Regions from separate parts of the Homo sapiens genome. Here region 1 is linked to region 2. Evidence: fine-mapped expression QTL. A gene starts in region 2. The other region holds a variant in brackets. All regions are shown on one strand. Distances are from middle to middle. Region 1 overlaps AP2A2 (adaptor related protein complex 2 subunit alpha 2). Region 2 holds the start of AP2A2 (adaptor related protein complex 2 subunit alpha 2).

The links.
Region 1: its variant is fine-mapped to the expression of AP2A2 in blood mononuclear cells (TOPMed, PIP 0.94).

Annotation. Positions count from the first base shown.
Region 1 is chr11:992,121-1,001,898 of GRCh38, reverse strand. AP2A2 (adaptor related protein complex 2 subunit alpha 2) reads right to left here. Exons shown (of 22, transcript NM_012305.4): 11 at 9,214-9,396; 12 at 8,518-8,615; 13 at 7,914-8,145; 14 at 7,654-7,827; 15 at 1,301-1,467. Among named protein-coding and RNA genes, the nearest start is that of MUC6, 40 kb to the left of the region's middle. RefSeq lists an enhancer at 7,091-7,615. The variant G/C (reference allele first, on the strand shown) is at 4,559.
Region 2 is chr11:921,471-931,248 of GRCh38, reverse strand. It overlaps AP2A2 (adaptor related protein complex 2 subunit alpha 2), which reads right to left and starts at 5,379. Exons shown (of 22, transcript NM_012305.4): 1 at 5,161-5,379. The coding sequence starts at 5,227. RefSeq lists a silencer at 5,028-5,567.

The DNA of each region.
Region 1 (9,778 bases), 71 kb before region 2:
ACGGCCGCATGCACAAGAGCCCCGAGGCCTGGCCAGCTGCAGACAGCGCCACCCAATGTGAGGCGTGCACAAGGGCCATGTGCAGCTCCCAGCACAGCCGTATGGAGACAGGGCAGGCAGCGCCCAGCAGGGAAGGGCCACGGCTGCCACGGACTGCCCAGCCCCTGGTCCCTTCCTGCCACCAAGACACTGAGGAGCAGCCACCACCAGAGCCCTGCAACCTGGATTCTCAATCTCAAACACAGCGACTCTAAGAGCAGTAAGACTGTTTTCAGCCCAAGCGGCGACCTGCACCCACCACCACGCCGGCCTGCCTCTCCTAAGTCCTTTCCCAACACGTAACAGGAAACAGAACTCACGTGCAACATGAATACAAAGAACTGAAAAACACCAGAACTCTATTACAGTCTTCAAAATGGGGGGCCAAAAGGCCATTCCTCAAAGGCTCTCTAACCTCCATCTGGGACAGAAACCGGCACCTGCGCTCCCACCCCACAGGGCAGCAGGGGAGAGGCGTCAACTCCAGGAAAGGGGGCACCTCAGACCTCCGGCCAGACATGAAAACAAGCAGATGGCTGAGAGCAGCCAGTAAGCGGAATGCACAGCTGATGAGCCCAGCAGAGAGGGCTGGGGAGAGCACGTGCGGGGGAAAGTGGTCAGCACCGACGATCTGAAGACCACGGAGACACTGGCAGAGACCACTGCACACAGGGAGCCGGGAGGTGCCCAGGCACCGGACAGAAATTAGAGCAGGACAAGCAGCAAAGACAGGCTGCCCTCAGGGGGAACCACAGGGTGGAGGCCGAAGGCGTGAGCAGGGTGGGCCTCACAGAAGGACTTAGCAAGTGAGCAACTCAAGGACAAGAGACCGGGCCTCCAGGACAGACACAGACAAGACGGCTTAAGTCAGAATGAAAAGCAGCCCAACTAGACAGGAAAGAGGCGAAGAGAGGAGACGTGTAGCTACAAAGAGTGTTTATCAACACTCAAACAGCAGCTGAAACATGATCGGACATCACCGTGCAGACAGGACACAACCACCACCCAGACAGTGTGTTTCTTTCATGTCCTCCTTTTCCTCCTGAGAGTAATGAACACTGCAGTCCATATAAATCAAGGTTGTGAGAGGAATGACACAGCAAACCCACCCACAACACAGCAGCTCCCGCTCTCTCCCCCAGGCAGTAATCTGGGAGGTAAACTCCGCTGCCCACCTCTGTCCAGCTGGCCGCGGCCACACCAGAAGTCAGGGGGCACGGCAGCCCCGTGCCTGTCTGCAGGACTCAGGAAACCTGACTACCTGGCAAAGTTGTCTTCGGAGCCAGGAGCGAGAGGCGCGACCACAGAGGCCGAGTCTGAGAACACGTCCACGAGCAGCCCGCTGCCGCCGGAGGAGGGTGGGGGGCCCGCGGGGGCAGGGGGGGCAGCCCCGAGACCCAGCAGGTCTGCCGACGGAGAAGGCGTAGACTGGAAGAGAAGGAAGGAGAGCATCAGCAGAGAGCCTCCCTGGCCTGGCCAACCCCAGGCAGCTCACGCCTGCACGTCCTCCCCCATGGCACCCCCTTGGCATCCATGCACTCCCAGTGGCTGGGGCAGGTGGCACACAACTCAGTGAGTGACCAGAGAGTGAGGGCTAACAGCCACTTCCTGAGTATATCCCAGACTCCAGCCTAAAGATAACTGCACTTAAAACATCAGTCATAATTTCACTAAGGCACCCTACATTTTTTCACAAATGCTATTTGAATGAAAAAAATTCTCAAAAAAATTTTGCCATGAAAGACATAAAAAAAGGCCAGACGCGGTGGCTCACACCTGTCATCCCAGCACTTTGGGAGGCCGAGGTGGGCGGATCACGAGGTCAGGAGATCGAGACCACCCTGGCTAACACGGTGAAACCCCATCTCTACTAAAAAATACAAAAAAAATTAGCCGGGCGTGGTGGTGGGCGCCTGTAGTCCCAGCTACTCGGGAGGCTGAGGCAGGAGAATGGTGTGAACCCGGGAGGCGGAGCTTGCAGTGAGCCGAGATCGCACCACGGCACTCCAGCCTGGGCGACAGAGCGAGACTCCATCTCAAAAAAAAAAAAAAAAAAGAAAGAACTAAGATCATGCATGTTACTGCCAACTGTCCAATAAGAAAGTAAGCTTCCAAAGATGAAAAAGCAAATAACTTACTCGGGTGCATTATTAATCATTAAATTATTACTAAATCATTATTAATCATTAAAAGTCTACAGAACGGATACTTTTAAAAAATAATTGCTTTTTGGCTGGGCATGGTGCCCCACACCTGTAATCCCAGCACTTTGGAAGGTTGAGACAGAAAGACTGCTTGAGTCCAGGAGTTTAAAACTAGCCTGGGCAACATAGCAAGAGACTGTCTCTGTTTTTGTTTTTTTTGAGACAGTCTCACTCTATTGCCCAGGCTGGAGTGCACTGGTGTGGGCTCACTGCAACCTCCACCTCAAGCGATTCTCCTGCCTCAGCCTCCCAAGTAGCTGGGATTACAGGTGGCCGCCATCACGCCCAGTTAATTTTTGTATTTTCAGTGGAGACAGGGTTTCACCATGTTGGCCAGGTTGGTCTCGAACTCTTGACCTCAGGTGATACGTTCACCTCGGCCTCCCATGAGCCACCGCACCCGGCCCCAGTAATTGCTCTTTGATCCTGGGGCAAAGGCACAAGGAAAGAGCGCCTATGATCTCATGATTAAACTCTCACAACAGGGCACAAGCAGCAGCTCAGTCCATCGCATGCTCACCCATCCAACAGGGCAGCAGGCTCCCCAGCAATGCCCCAGCAGCCTGACTTTGGGAGCTCAGACCTGCTCTGGGCTCCACGGGTCCTGCCCCACAGCAGCCTGTGCACCAGAGGGACTCAGATGCTCCCTATAAAAAGGACACCCAGCCTGGCACGGTGGCTCACACCTGTAATCCCAGCACTTTGGGAGGCCGAGGGGGGCAGATCCCAAGGTCAGAAGATTGAGACCATCCTGGCCAACATGGTGAAACCCCGTCTCTACTAAAAATACAAAAATTAGCTGGGTGTGGTGGCACACGCCTGTAATCCCAGCTACTCAGGAGGTGGAGGCAGGAGAACTGAAACCAGGAGGCGGAGATTGCAGTGAGCCAAGATCGTACCACTGAACTACAGCCTGGCAACACTCACACTTTGACACTATACACCAGGGGCTCTTGGTGGAGAAACCCCCCACCCAGCTAAGAGCGTTCTGGAGATGTGGAGGGCTCTGACTATCACAAGGATATTGGCATTTCACAGGCAAAAAACAGAGACACAAGACACCCTAACTTGAAGATTCGTCTTGAGTAACTTTAGAATGTTCCACTGGACATCTAAGAAGGTAAAAAATTAGTTTGTAATTATCTGAGACTCCACCTGAATGCCATTTTACATTAATGCAAAGTTAAGGTGTCACACTGTACTTTCAAAAAAACTACATGTGTGGGTTTGTGATATATGAATTTTACTCAAAGATAAATGAGGCATCACAAAGTGTGTTATGCAAAAAAGGTGCAGGTCAGAATGGGGGCGGGGGGTCAGAATGGGGGCGGGTGAGAGTCAGAATGGGGATTGGGGGGCAGTCAGAAACGGGGCAGGCTCCCAGGCTCTGCTCTTGTGACGGAGCACCTCTGCAAGAGAAGACGACACGGGTCTCATGTGCTCCAAGGGTGGGAGGTCACAGAGGAGCTGGCAGAGAAGAGTCCCAAAAATATCCAAGGCGTGTCTCGATGAGACCATCTGAAGGCGGCGCTTTGCTCCCTACGCCGGGGACAGCGCCCGCCAACACTGTGGCCTCCACAGCCTGACAAAGCTGTGAGCTGCGTGGGAAGCCATCGGCCTTGGCCATGGCCATGCACCTGCAGCCCAAATGGAGACAGTTTCTCCTCTGCATCTCATCACAGATGTTACCCTGGTTCCTGCACTGATTCAAATACATCTATGGCTTTTATTTTATTTTATTTTATTTTTTTGAGACCGAGTCTCACTCTGTTACCCAGGCTGGAGTGCAGTGGTGCAATCTCAGCTCACTGCAACCTCCGCCTTCTGGGTTCAAGCAATTCTCCTGCCTCAGCTTCCCGAGCAGCTGGGATTACAGGCACACACCACCACACCTGGCTAATTTTTGTATTTTTAGAAGAGACGGGGTTTCACCATGTTGGCCAGGCTGGTCTCAAACTCCTGACCTCAAGTGATCCGCCCACCTCAGCCTCCCAAAGCGCTGGGATTACAGGTGTGAGCCACCATGCCCAGCCATCTATGGCTTTTAACTGCTTTCTAAAGTAGGAAAGCCCTTTGCCCTAGTAAAGGCATTTGTACCTGAAACGTTACCACAGATTGTAACAGCGAGGCCAGATGCAAGGCCCCAGGACAGTAGGGTCCTAACACCCACTTCAGGTTCTTCATCTTCCTTATCCTCTCAGGCCTGGGAGACCCTCCTCAGGGAGCAGGCCTGGCTCCTGGGCCACACCAGTTCACCTCCTCCCTCCAATAGCAGGACAACTTGAGGGGTGAAGGTTTTGCCTACAAGGGCCCCA[G/C]GCTCCTGCATGTGAAGCCAGGCAGCCTCTGATCCCCACACCCCTGTGCTCCCCAGCACACCCGGGGACACGCACACCACAGCCTCCCCCAAGGAGCTGTGTGCAGAAAGAGGATGCTCGGAAGAAGTAAAATGTCCTGGCCTCATCTATGATGTTAAATAAAAGACATTTTGGCCAATGTGACACCAAGATAAAGCCACTGTCTCTCGTGGGAAAGGCACATGTGCTGATGCCACCCTGAGGCCCCTTCACGGCCCATACAGAAGACCCTGAGCAAGAAAACTTCGCCAGGAGTGTCTCCCCATAGGGAGGGGCCTCTCACTGGGGCTCCCGTGAGCAATGGGAACAGATTGGAAAGCACAGGATAGCAATGACACCCACACACCATAGCTCTCGGTCAGAACAGAGGGGCCCACACACCACAGCTCTCGGTCAGGACGGAGGCGCCCACACACCACAGCTCTCAGTCAGGACGGAGGTGCCCACACACCACAGCTCTCAGCTCAGAACAGAGCTGCGTGCCTCGGCCACAGACACCTCCCTAAGGAACCCACCCGCCAGGCACCACTGACCATCAGGAGTGAAGCCACACTCAGAAAATCCACTGAATGAGCCCTGAAGGGGGAACTCCCTCCAAGAAGGCACCTTACAGAAATGCTGAACCTCACTGGACCCTCATCCTCCTTTTCAGAGGGCAGCACACTGCTCTCACTCCCAGGGTCCAGAAGCTTCCATCTGATCCCTAAGCCACACAGTCAAGGCCAGGCCCTCCAAAGTCCACCCTGAGCCTAGCCGGACAAACCTGGGTGTGATCAAAGGCCTGGGGTATGGGCACACCTCACTTCTCAGGACCCACATTAAAAAGAAACATCAAATAAGAACCAAAGAGAGACTGAAGACAATCCTACAGCCCCTTTCCATGCTCCCTCAGCGAGTTCCTCTTAACGTCAAAGCAGCTGGAGGGGAGCGAGAGCACCTGGTGCCTTCCCAGCTTCCAACAGGCAATCCCAGGTTTCCGTGGAAGACTTCACAGTGCCCTTGCTGAAAGCCGGCCTCCAGGAATCCCTGCACACCAGCCTCCCCTGGATCACGTCATCCTGCCCTCGCCTCCTCACCCAACTGGGGCCGCGTCCTCCTCTCTGCAGGGCGGAGCCGCTGCCGGCCCAGCACCCACGGGAAGGCCCCTGCTCCGGCAGCTCACAGACAAATCTCCACAAGCAAGTTTCTGCCTCCAGAAACCTATGTCAAGATGTCCAAAGGAGAGGGAGAGATGGATTAGAGGAGTGACAGAGGCCTGCTGCACTAGGCGCCTGGCTAGTGACGTCCCACGGGAGGAGACAGGGTCAAAAGCAGGTCACCAGCTCTACAGAGCACATGAGAAACATAAGCATGAAGGTGCTCAGGCGTGAAGGGAAGACGCCCACCTTGGGAGAAAGAGTCACATCTTTCATTCATTTCATTCACTCCAGGATGAGCTCACAGGCAATTCAAGCCTCCAGATGGCGGGCACAGCAGCGTGCCACAAACAACACAGAGAGAGGGCACGGGGGGACAGGGGCTGCACAGAGGACACTAGGTGGAGGGAGGGGAGAGGGAGGAAGAGGGGGAGGGAAGACTGCTCATTGAGATGTCAGGCTCAGCCTGGATACCAGCCCCATGGCAGGCCCTGCACTGTCGGCCAGAGGGGCAGGACACATGGTCAGCCGGGGCACATAAGCAGGTCCCCGCCAAGGAGTGCCAGGACTCCGACATGAGCACCCTCCCAACCAGCACACTGCCAGGGCAGGCACCACCACAGGAGCTCACCCCACAAAGCCCTGCCGATACTGGGTAGCAGCACTGGTTGCCACCACTGGACCTGCGTCCTGGAGAGACAGGTCCTCTAACTGGACAAACAGAAAGCCCGCCTGACCCCGACAGGAGCCCTCCCTGACAGTGCAGAGGGGAACAGCTGGCAAGCAGAGCCAAGCAAAAACGCAACTCTCAAAACGACACTTCTCACCTGACAAATACCACAGGACACATTCTGTTACAGGATTATTCTCATCGCATCACACATACAAGGAAAACCAGACCTAACCCAACTCACTACATAAAACCTCGAAGAGCAGGGCAGGACAGGTCCTCTCTAAATCAACAAAGCATGTGAGGACAGCTGCCTGGGTGAGGCAGTCCTGTAGGAGAGGGGACGGCCACTTCCCCTAAAACAAGGCACCACAGAGGATGTGTGAGCTGAGCTGGACAAGACGACGGTCTGAAGGAAGTGCCTTGCCCAGCAGGCACAGTGGCCCCCGGGAGAGGACAGCGGGGTGTGCAGCAGGGACAGTGGCCCCCGGGACAGGCCAGAGGGGCGTCCAGCAGGGACAGTGGCCCCCGGGACAAGCCAGCGGGGTGTGCAGCAGGGACAGTGGCCCCCAGGACAGGCCAGGGGGGCGTCCAGCAGGGACAGTGGCCCCCGGGACAGGCCAGCAGGGTGTGCAGCAGGGACAGTGGCCCCCGGGACAGGCCAGGGGGGCGTCCAGCAGGGACAGTGGCCCCCGGGACAGGCCAGCAGGGTGTGCAGCAGGGACAGTGGCCCCCGGGACAGGCCAGGGGGGCGTCCAGCAGGGACAGTGGCCCCCGGGACAGGACAACGGGGCGTCCAGCAGGGACAGTGGCCCCCGGGACAGGCCAGGGGGGCATCCAGCAGGGACAGTGGCCCCCGGGACAGGCCAGCAGGGTGTGCAGCAGGGACAGTGGCCCCCGGGACAGGACAACGGGGCGTCCAGCAGGGACAGTGGCCCCCGGGACAGGCCAGGGGGGCGTCCAGCAGGGACAGTGGCCCCCGGGACAGACAGCGGGGCGTCCAGCAGGGACAGTGGCCCCCGGGACAGGACAGCGTGGCGTCCAGCAGGGACAGTGGCCCCCAGGACAGGACAGCAGCGTGTCCAGCAGGGACAGTGGCCCCCAGGACAGGACAGCGGGGTGTCCAGAGCCACAGCCAGAGCCTGGGTTCTCAGTACATGCTCCTCCCTGACAGGCAAATGCTCTGCTGGTCCCAAGTCTTGGGGGTGAGGCCCTGACAGGTCTGGGTGCACAGTAGGTGAGGGACCCACCACGGCGCTGGTACTGGCTGGGGCAGGCTCAGGACCCCCGTTCACGTCCACACTCCTGTCCCGCTTGGTGTCCTCCAGGTCTGTCACCGTGCTGGGGCCCTTCTTCTTCTTGAGCTTTGCCAAGATGGAGGACTCCCGCTCCGGGAATGGGGGCATCTCCTCCAGCACGGTCGCCTTGGAAAGAACACAGGGTGGGACTGGTCAGAGCTCCTGGCCTCCAACCCTCAGCCAAGCCAGCCCGAAGGGCGGGGGCCTCCTACCAGAATGTCGGTGCTGGCCACGGTGCTGAGCCGCAGGTACTCCACAGCACGCTGCTGCAGCTCCACGTCTGCGTTCCTGAGCTGGCTGTCGCTGCGCAGCACGTCCTGGATGGTGGGCTTCACCTCCGGGAAGAGGTTCACGAACTTGATGTAGGTGGACAGGAGCAGCGCGCGGGTGGGGACGCTGCACAGGTGGAACTTGGAGTGCAGCAGGTGGAACTGGATCAGCGGGCTGGGGACGGGGAGGCACAACACAGGGACACCGTCGTCCCCTCGCAGGCTGCAGCACGCCCCCGCGGGGGGGGGACGGCGGCGAGACCCCCTGGCCTGCACCAGAGGCCGCTGGTCGGGACCCTCTTCCAGCTCCAGATCCCACCGCAAAGACGCCCCTTTCACTAAGTCAGCCATCAACCCCACGTCTCCATTTTCTACTAGAATCCCTGCTTTTTCTATCAACTGAAGGAAAACAAAAAGACGCCGATGGGGAGCAGAAGCGGCTCTGCGAGGCCTCACGGCAGGGCCAGCTGGTGCCTCGCCTCTTGCCACCGACCACCGAGAGGCCCGCCGGAGCGCACACAGCCCCGACTCGCAAAGGGCCTCTCACCTGGATCTCGGGTCTCCAGCTATCAAGTTTCCAAACTCCCCCAGGATGTAGCCGCCCACTTTGACCAGGTTCTCGTGGCACGCGGGAGCCTGAAGAGCCTGCGAAGCACAAACAATGAGCCGGGGTGGCAGCCAGGTGCCAGAGTTAAGGCGAGGCGGGCACGTCCTGGCGCGGTGCACCCTACACCAGCACCAGCCCCTCAGCTTCCTGGAGACCCCAGTCCAAGTGCCCATCCCTGCCTTCCTCAGCACCCTCAGTACCTGTGTCAGCAGCAAGGAACCCAAGGCTGCCACACGCTGACCTGCCCTGGAGGGAGCTGCAGCATCCACAACAGGCTCTGGCTGGGGAGGTTCTGCCAGCGTCCTCATGGCACACCCCTTGCCGGTGGCCTAACCCTCTCCGACGGACAGGGCAGGCCCCACCACGGCATGCCCCAGCATGCTCTCACACACACAGAGGCCGGCTTTCTCAGGTGGCCCCCAGAGAGCCAGAAGTTTGAGAGTTAGGGTGAGAAGAAACTGGGACTCAGCAAGGGGCACCAACAGTGGAGGAGCTAGAGCCTCAGGGAAGAGCTGAGGGGCAAGAGGGGTCAGCAACGGCCCTCGGCACCTCCACGCAGGCAGGCTGGAACCACTCACTGCTCACCTTCTGCAACTGCCCTCCACCCCATCCTTCCTGCCATCCTGCGGGCCATACCTCGAACACAGTCTTGGCCGCGTAGCCCTGCACGTCGTCCCGGTTGATGACGATCTGAATGACTCGGTACCACACCTCTTCACTCACGTAATCACCAGCAATTCGGATCAAGTTCAAGATGGTATCCACATACCAGGTGTAGTCCACCGCGTACTTCTCAGCCAGGATGGCGACCTTCAGCACCTGTGGGGGACAGGCTGCTGAGGGCCGGCACCTGCAGGCCATGGCAATCCCAAGACCAAACTGTCGTCCAAAGTCAAAGTGAGAGTTTCAGAAGCACCTCAATGTGTCTACAAAAGTTTGGGACATGGAGGAAGCTTGAACTCGATTCTCAAAAAAGCCCACGAGCCCAGAAAGTTTAAGATGCCCTGACTTAAGCAAAGAAAGCCAGGAAGAGGCGGAGACCAGTGCACAGAAGGCCACGGCCACAGCCAGGCCACCTCCCACCTGGGCCCTTCTCTCCCAAAGCCCCAGCACCTGGCGGCAGCACTCCTCTGACCTCATCACCCTAGGCTCCCGGTGGCAGCACTCCTCTGACCTCTGACTGCGCCACCCTGGGCTCCCG
Region 2 (9,778 bases):
TTCAGCAGTTATTTTGTTTTCTCGGTATCTTTTGCTCAAATACAATGTCAATCAATGCACCAGCCTGAATGGACCTCGATGGGACTGTACTGAGGGGGAAAAAAGCAATCTCAAAAGATCACATATGATGTGATTCCCTTTATATGACATCCTTGAGCCCACAAAATTACAGAGATGGAGAACAGATTAGTTTCAGGAGTATGGCTATAAGGGGTAGCTTTGTGATGATGGTATAGTTCTGTATCTTGACTGAGGTAGGGAACCGGTTACACAAAGCTACAGGTGCTAAACTGCATAGAACCACACACACACACGTGCATGTCGATCTAACGAAATCTGAATATGCCTGGTGGTGTGTACCAGTGTCTGTTTCCTGGTGTTGAATATGTCCTGTAGTTATGCAAGATGTCCACATTAAGAAAGGTAGGGCACCAGGCACAGTGGCTCACGCCTGTAATCCCAGCACTTTGGGAGGCCGAGGCCGGTGGATCACGAGGTCAGGAGACCGAGACCATCCTGGCTAACACGGTGAAACCCCGTCTCTACTAAAAATACAAAAAATTAGCCGGGCGTGGTGGCGTGCACCTGTAGTCCCAGCTACTCGGGAGGCTGAGGCAGCAGAATGGTGTGAACCCGGGAGGCGGAGCTTGCAGTGAGCCGAGATCGCGCCACTGCACTCCAGCCTGGGCGACAGAGCGCAACTCCGTCTCAAAAAAAAAAAAATTCTAAAACTGGGACTAAATAAAAGGACTAGAATTTTTTTAATGCCAATTTAAAAAAAAAGAAACAGTTTATTAACTCTCACACACTGAATGCATGCTGACCAAATGCAGTGGCCGCTGGGTTGACGTCAATCAGAAAGGATGAAGTTAATTTTAGGAGACATTAAGTTAGTTCACTACCTGAGCCACAAAAGCTACAACTTTGAGGGGCAGAGCTTGACACGAGGCACCTTTTCAAATCCTGGAGCATATTCATTGCTGCCTATGCTAAGAGGAGTAATGCCCCAAGCCAGTCTGCTGGGAGTGGGTTACTTGAAGTGAAAACAGAGCATCCTAGTGTCCACATGCTCCCTGTCCGCTACCTCAGATACTTGGCACAGGGCTTTTTTTTTTTTTTTTTTTTTTTGAGACAGAGTCTCGCTCTGTCACCCAGGCTGGAGTGCAATGGCACAATCTCAGCTCACTGCAAGCTCCGCCTCCTGGGTTCAAGCGATTCTTCCGCCTCAGCCCCCGGAGTAGCTGGGACTACAGGTGCATGCCACCACGCCCAGCTAATGTTTGTATTTTTGTGGAAACAGTGTTTCCCTATGTTGGCTAGGCTGGTCTTGAACTCCTGACCTCAGGTGATCCGCCCACCTCAGCCTCCCAAAGTGCTGGGATTACAAGCGTGAGCCACCGCACCCGGCTGGCACCAGGTCTTGGAGGGGAAAAACTTTTTTTTTGAGGCAGGGTCTCAATCTGCTCCTCAGGCTGCCCAGGCTGGAGTGCAGTGGCGCAATCCGAGTTCATGGCAGCCTCAACCTCCAGGGCTCAGACAATGCTCTCACCTCAGCCCACTGAGTAACTGGGACCACAGGTGCGTGCCACCACGCCTGGCTAATTCTTTTTTCTCTTTTGAAAAGACAGGGGTCTCACTATATTGCCCAGGCTAAAGGAGGAAAACTTAAGAAACTGGTCAGAAAGACGCAAATTTGGAGCTGAAACAGGCTTTAACGATATTTCAGCTCAAAATCCGCCCCTTCAAGCGTCAGCTGAGGAAACTGAGGCTCCGTGGCTAGTGGCCTCCACTCACGCAGCTTTAATGATATTTCAGCTGAAAATCCAGCCCTTCAACTGTCCGCTGTGGAAACTGAGGCTCCATGGCCAGTGGCCTCCACTCATGCAGCTGCTAAGAGGCAGAGTCAGGGTCAAGAGCCTTGGCTGTTGGCTCAGAGTCCTCTTTCCACAGGGCCCGACTACTCCTATCATTCACTCTCATGACAGGAAAACAGCACACAAAATCAGAGCTGGCCAGGGAAAGGGGAAGCGGGGACCCCTCTGCCTGTGACATGGAGGTCAAGTTCAGATCAGCTCAAACCCTGGCTGGCTCTCCAATCCCGTCTCCAGGCACCAGCCAACATTCATTAACTCAATACGTATATACATTAATTATTTGCTGTTCCTCTAATACCTTCTTGGTCTTCTGCCTGAATTGCCCAAGAATCACCTTCCTTGTGAGGTCTTCTCTGGCATGCACCTCGCATGCCAGACGCTCGCCATGAGGAGAACAGCAGGAAAAATGTGATGAGCAAGATAGGGTGCGCACCTTGTAGAGGCCACCCTAGAGGGCAGTGGGGGAGATGGGGCCACTCAGGTGAAAAGCAGCACCACAAGCTGAAGACACTGCCCAGGAGGAGAATGGTGGGCGCTGCAGCTGATGAGAGGCCATCCAACAGCAATGAGGGAAAGAGGATTCCGAGAAAGGGGCCGTATTAAAGAGACCTGGCTCCCCCAGCTAGGACTAAGCACCCCTTCTTCTACGAGCTCCTTCAGGGGAGGGGCTGTGTTATTCAATGGGATACACTAGTGGTTCTCGACGGCGGACAACTTTGCCCTAAGGGCACATTTGTCAATGCCTGGAGACATTGTTCCTTATCACAACTAAGGCAACTGGTGCTGCTATAAACATCCTAAAAGGCACAGAACAGTTCCCCACAATAAAGTGTGATCCAGCCCCAAATGTCAGCTCTGCTGAGTTGGAGAAAGTCTGGTCTATATAGTCAAGTATTTTATAGAGTACAGCAGTTTCCCCATATCCACAGGTATACGTTCCAAGGCACTCAGTGGGTGCCTGAAACTTCAGATGATACTAAATCCTATACAAGCTGCTTTTTTCCCACACATACCTATGAAAAAGTCTAACTTACAGATTAGGCACAGTAAGAGATTAACAGAAGCCAATAATAAAAAAGAACTGTAATGATATACTGTAATAAAAGTTATATGAATGTGGTCTCTTTAAATATCTTATTGTACTATGCTCACCTATTTTCAGATCACCAGAGGTAACTGAAACCTCAGAAGGTGAAACCACAAATAAGGGAGGACGGCTATACCGCACTCACTGTGGTAGGCGCCATCCTGTCAAACGCAGGCCCTGGCACAGACAATATATCTGACAAGTGGGTGACTTGCTGTCTGAGGAAATGGCTTTCAATCTCATTGTCCTGCCTAACGCAATTTTCTTCAAAAATGGAAGGACAGACATCATAGCGCATTTAAGGGTACTCAGTCTTTGTCCCAGAGGTCCCCTTAAGAAATAATACACACACTTAGTTTTACAAAATGCATGTTGGTCTCATTATGTAACAAACAAAGAGAAAAAATGCTACTCGTAAAAGTGCTGATCTGAGGGTGTTTCTAAGCCTTTTTTTTTTTTTTTTTTTTTTTTGTGAGAAAGGTCTCACTCTGTCACCCAGGCTGGAGTATGGCGCGATCTCAGCTCACTGCAGCCTTAACCTCCTGGGGTCAAGTGATCCTCCTCTCTCAGCCTCCCAAGTAGCTGGGACTATAGATGTGTACACCAATACGCCCAGCTAATTTTCGTATTTTTTTGTAGAGACAGGGTGTTACCACATTGCCCAGGCTGGTCTCAAACTTCTGGGCTCAAAAGATCCACCTGCCTCAGCCTCCCAAAATGCTGGGACTATAGGTTTGAGCCACCGCACCCAGCTCTATGCTTTTTTTTTTTTTTTTTAACAGAGTACAGGAAGGGTTAGATGGTCCTCTACCCTTCCACAGAGTGTGGGAGAACCACTATCCTCCTGATCCTCCATCCCGTCTAAGGAGATGAGAATTCAAAGGGAAGATCACAACAGTCCCTCAAAATACACATTAAAAATTATGAGGGTGCCGTGGCTCACGCCAGTAACCCCAGGACTTTGGGAGGCCAAGACAGGTGGATCACTTGAGCTCAGGATTTCGAGACCAGCCTAGGCAACATGGCGAGACCCCCCCATCTCTACAAAAAACACGAAAATCAGCCAGGCATGGTGGTGGTGCACGCTTGTAGTCCCAGTGACTCCGGAGGCTGAGGTGGTAGGATCACTTGAGGTGGGAGGTTGAGTGCGCCGTGATGGAACTACTGCGCTCCAGCCTGAGAGCCAGAGCAAGACCCTGTCTCAAAAAAAAGAAAAACAAAAATCATGAAGTCAACTATTTGCTGGATAACAAGGAAAAAAATCAACGCAGCAGACAGGAAACTGGCTTTGTTTCTCCCTCAAATTAAATAAGGAGATGGCCTCTGAAAGCCAAGAGGAGGTTCTGCACACCAAAGTCAAATTAATTGGTGGACCGGTGCACCCACCCAGCCACCCTGCACATCCTTCTAACAGGCCCAGCCTTCCTGGCTTGTTTAACGGTTTGGTGTGGATTTTTCCCACCCCGAGGGGACAGGCACGGGGCTGAGAACGAGGTCTGTGATTGGAGCAGCAGGCAGCGAGGCCATCCCACACCCCGACTGCTGCTCGTGTCCAGATTCCCTCCGGGAATGAGTCATTTTAATCGTCGTAGGTGAGATCTAATCAGGGGTTAATAAGCCTCCAGAACCCAGGTCACAAAGCTGTTTCCTGGGAAGACACTGATTTCCAGATTTCTGCTCCCAAAGCTAAAATCCACGCCGTTTTGGAAAACGCTGGGTTAAACGCTCCAGTACTAGAAAGACCAAGGTGACATCATGCTGGGGAGGGGCGTCTTGGCCCGGAACCCCCTTGGTGGTGCCGCAGCCCCCCGCACGGACCAGCAAACGGGAGTGGAGATGTGGATGAAGGGCCGTGCCCTAAACCCCTAGACCCCGCACCCCTAGACCCTGGACACCCCACCCCGCACCCCCAGACCCAGGGCCCCGCTCTGCATCCTGACCCGCACCCCCATACCCGATACCCCAAGACTCTGAGCGCCGCCCGCACCCCCAGACCCTGGACCCCCACCCCGCACCCTGGCCCCCACCCCCAGACCCGGTACCCCAAGACCCCGAGCGCCGCCCGCACCCTCAGGCCCCGGGCCCCGCCCGCATCCCAGCCTGCACCCCCGCCTCGAGGCCCCGCCCCGGGCCTCCGCTCCCAGACCCCGTCTCCGCCGGCGGCCCCGGCCCCGGCCCCACGCCGCCCCCGCCACTCACAGTTGCGGATATCCGAGATGAAGACCGCCAGGCCCCGCATCCCGTCCCCCTTGGACACGGCCGGCATCTTCCGACGCTCGGGAGCGGCCTCGGCTGGCGGACCCGGGCGGAGGAGCGCGGGGAGCGGGAAGCGGGGAGTGCGGTCGCCGTCACCGCCGCGGAGGAGCCGCCGGGGAGCCGCCTAACCACGGCCGCCTCAGGGTCCCAGCGCCGCTTTCTGGGCCGCCGCGCGCGCGCACGTACGGCGCCCGCACCAGCACGCACGCGCACGCACGCGAGCGACGACGGACGGCGGCCGGGGCGGGTGTCGCGTGAGGCAGCGCGCGCGCGTCCGCGGCACGGGGGCGAGCCGGTCGAGGCAGGCGCGGGGGCGCCCCCTGCAGGCGGACACCATGGACGGAGCCGCTGAAGCCACGCGTTCGCGTCCCGGGGCCGCGCCAAGCTGGCGATGCCGCCCGCGTCCCCCACGGGAAGGGCGTGGGTCCGGGCGGGAACCCGCGTGTGCAGCGGGCCGCCTCTGTCGTTGTTGGTGGTCACTGCAAAAGAGGCGGCCACGCAGGCACACGCGTACGGCCTCGTCCTGGGCCTCGGCCCCGCTAGCTTGCCCCGAGCAGTCTCCGTTTTCTTACTTGGAATAAACGACCTGTGAGCGCTGGGCGGCGGGGCAGCTCCGAGGCCAGGGCCTTGTTTGTTCCGCGGGGGCCGGGGCGGGAGGGCGGCGCCGGGAGGAAGCTGGGGCTCCAGGCGAAGGGGTCACAGCCGCTGGACGGCCTTTGGCGAGGAAACCCTCCCCTAGCACGGTATCCTGAGACGGTGGGGCTGGCCCGCCCCTCCTGCCGCCCTGAGCCGCCAGGGCCACATCTCTTGCGGTCCCTGAGCTGGGGGCGAGGCAGGCCCCGTGCCCGACCCAGCCCAGGGTCTGTGTGGCAGCCCAGGTGCCCCCTCCACATCACCTGGGCCTGCAGAGAAACAACCACCCACCCCACCCCAGTGACAGCGGCCGGGGGCGGCAGCCCCTGCGGAATCTAGTCCCTCGGCGGCGCCAGGACTTTTGGCCACTGTTGCCAGGGCCCCCTCTGCTCCCCAGCCCTCTGCACCACTGCAAGCTGGAGGCCTAGGCCCACCCCTGTGGACACATCGCAAGGGAGGACCTGCTGGGCCAGGCTGCACAGCTCCAGGTCCCGGCCAGGAAGAGACCCCAGGGAGTGGGGAAGCAGATGGCCCTGCCTCACTGTCCTTCCCAGAGCCAGATGGCTTTGAACAGGAAGCTCCCTCCTGCTGCAGTGGGGGGATCTGGACCCTGTACCTGGAACTGGCCCAGACCCACCAGCCAGGGCTTTGTCCCCACCCTGGCTCACTTCCGCAGCCCCAGATGAGAGCTTAGCCCTGGTGGAGCCCGGCCAGGAGGAGGGCACAGGACCCATGCCCCTCCCCAATGAACCGGGTGCCGCACCCAGGCTCTGGGCCTCCAGAACTCCTGGGGAAAACCAAGATCTGTGACAGACCCCAGTCAGCATAAGGCAACCAAGTCCATCACTTCCCAAGACAGAGGCACGGAGCCGACCCAGCAGAGGGCTTCCTGGAGGACGGTACACCCCTCCGGAGTCCCTATCCTCTCCCAGTGCCACCTCCTGGCAGAGAAAGTGGTCCCGGGGCTGTTCATTCTTCAGCCTCTCCCTTCCACCAAGAAGCTTCCCTCCCCTGTCCCTGACAACAAATAAAGGCCATTCTGGACACAAGAGCATCTTGTGCCATGTGAGGGGTCCTGGGCTGCTCTCCAGGACAGTCCCAGCAGTCACGAGGACCGTCCACTAACACACGTGGGCAGAGCATGGGCTCTGGGCGTCAGGAGGCTGGCATGCCTAATCCAAGCTCCCATTGGCAGTGGCAGTGCAGAAGACCGAGACAAGCAGACCACTGTGCCCCCCCACCAGCAGCCACTCACAGAGCAGGGCAATGGGGGTGCTGCAGGGGCTGCCCACAGGAGGGCTTGGGCCTGGCAGGCATCCCCCTCCGCCCACTCGGAAGACTCCTCCTCAGTGCCAGCTCTGGGATTCCCACAGACATCCTCCCGTCCACACAAGAGTGTTTAGGGGTCCCAGAAGGCCCGACATGCAGCCATGCAAAAGACTTCCCACCTCCTTCCAGCGTCGTTGCCCTTGCAGACACGCAAGCCCTCCAGATGATTCACTCCAGTCCCAGCCTTGGGTCTGAGTCCATGTGGGCCTCTCTGACCACTGCCACTCCTCGGCTCGGGAGAGGCCAGCTTCGGGAGTGCGCAGTCCTAGGAAACAGTTTCTTTTTCTTTATTTTATTTTTTGTAGTGATGGCATTTCACCACGGTGCCCAGGCCGGTCTTGAACTCCTGTAATCCCAGCATTCCGCCTGCCTGTGTCTCCCAAAGTGCTGGGATTACAGATGCAAGCCACTATGCCTGGCCTATTTATTTATTTATTTATGTTTAATTTTAGAGACAGGGTTTCTCCCTTTGACTCCCAGGCTGGAGTGCAGTGGTACAATCATGAATCACTACAGCCTCGACCTTCTGGGCTCAAACCATCCTCCTGCCTTGGCTCCCAAAGTGCTTAGACTGCAGGTGCACGCCACCACACCTGGCTAAGTTTCTGATTTTTGTGGAGATGGAGTCTCACTATGTTGCCCAGGCTGGTCTTGAACTCCTGGGCTCAAGCAGTCCTCCTGCCTTGGCTTCCCAAAGTGCTGAGATTACAAGCCACTGTGCCTAGCCTCAGTATCTTTCTTTTTTTTTTTTTTTCTTCCTTGAGATGGAGTCTTGCTCTGTCGCCCAGGCTGGAGTGCAATGGCATGATCTCGGCTCACTGCAACCTCCACCTCCCGGATTCAAGCGATTCTCCTGCCTCAGCCTTCTCAGTAGCTGGGATTACAGGCACGCACCATCACGCCCGGCTAATTTTTTGTATTTTTAGCAGAGGTGGAGTTTCACCATGTTGGCCAGGATGGTCTCAATCTCCTGACCTCATGATCCGCCCTCCTCGGCCTCCCAAAGTGCTGGGATTACAGGCGTGAGCCACCGCGCCCAGCCATTTCTTAAATTATTTGAACGTTTGTCATACTTTAGCCACGCAAGGTCACAGTACTATTCCCAAGGGCAGAGGTGGGGACGAGTCGCTTTCCTTCATCCACAGCCATGGGGAAGCCAGGGTCCACAGATACAAGCCCGACGTGGGCATCATGAAGGGAAAACAGGCTGGGGCCCCAAGCTGCGGTGTGGAGGTGCTGTCTCACTGCAGCAGGGTTCCCCAACATATAGCCCCTGCAGCGTTAGCTGGCCATGCCCTGGGTCCTACCCAGACCTGAACATGTCTGTTTTACAAATGACCCAGTTTCCTTCTCATCATCTCTGGCGTAAGTTGCAGACAATGACCCTTCCAGAAGAGGGTCTGGCAGCATGTTCCATGTACAGTTGGTCCCTGTGCACTCATGAGAGTTCAGGGACAATGAGGTGGCATGCTCAGACCCTGTGGCCCCCCCGTGATCATCTGAGCACCTGCAGTCCCCAGGAGTGACATGCTCAGGGAAGGCTGTGGGAACTGACTGTCCCCTGCCATGGAAGGGTGGGAGGCATGAGGGGTGCATTCTGGAACTCTGCGGTGGGTGGGTGCGTCAGGTATAGCCAGCCCACCTGAAGGAGGAGAAGATGAGCTCAGGCTCCTGAGTGCTCATCACGGGGCGGGTGGGAGCTGCCATGACCACACATCTTTCTCACCACTGCAAAGCCGGAGGAATACAAAGCCATTCACAGCTGGGCCCAGACAGCAGCAAAACAGCCACCAGGGTGGGAGGTGCAGCCTCCCCAGACGTCTGGCGGGAGAGCTGCAGTGCTGTGCGGGGCCCAGAGAACTGGCATGGGGTAAATTCGATAACCTGGGACCCCAAGCCCCACTTCCCAAGAGTCCCCGCCCAGCTCAGCCCTTGATCCTGAGTCAGGCCCCAACACATCCACACCCACAATCGCACAGAGGGGGATGACTGGGCACCTGTGAACAGCGGGAAGCTGAGTTTCTGTCAACAAAACCCCACAGAACACTTGTAGGATGGCTTTTGAGACACAGGCCCCGGACAACAGCTGGGTCCTTTGCAGCACCCACGGTGTCTGGATCAACTGAGCCAGCCTGGCAGCCCAGGGTCCGTCCGGCTGCTGCTGGGCCAAATTCCTGGAAGCTACATGCAGGGCAGCCCCTAAAACATGGTTACAATGACAGAAATCCCTGGACATAATGCAGAAAAAGGGGCTCAGAGGACTCAGGGACTGAACCTGCCCAGCTTCTCCTAAGGAGACCCTTCCTGCCAAAGGCTTGGAGATGTGTAACTTGCACAAGGCCAGCACCTTCACAGGCTCTCAGGGCCGTCCTCTGAGGCTGTGGGGGTGCAGCCACATCAGCAGGCCCCCTGCTCTCAAAGGAGAAGGGCAGCTCGGGGTGACTAAGGCCAAGGAGGCCAGACACCCCACTAGGTGGCAGGGTGATGACATCATCAAGGTCTGTCCCAAGCAGCCCCTAGTACGGGTTACCGGCTCAGGGCACCCTTGGGCCAACAGAGGGGCAGCCCTCTAAGCTCCTGCATAAGATGTGTGGTCAAG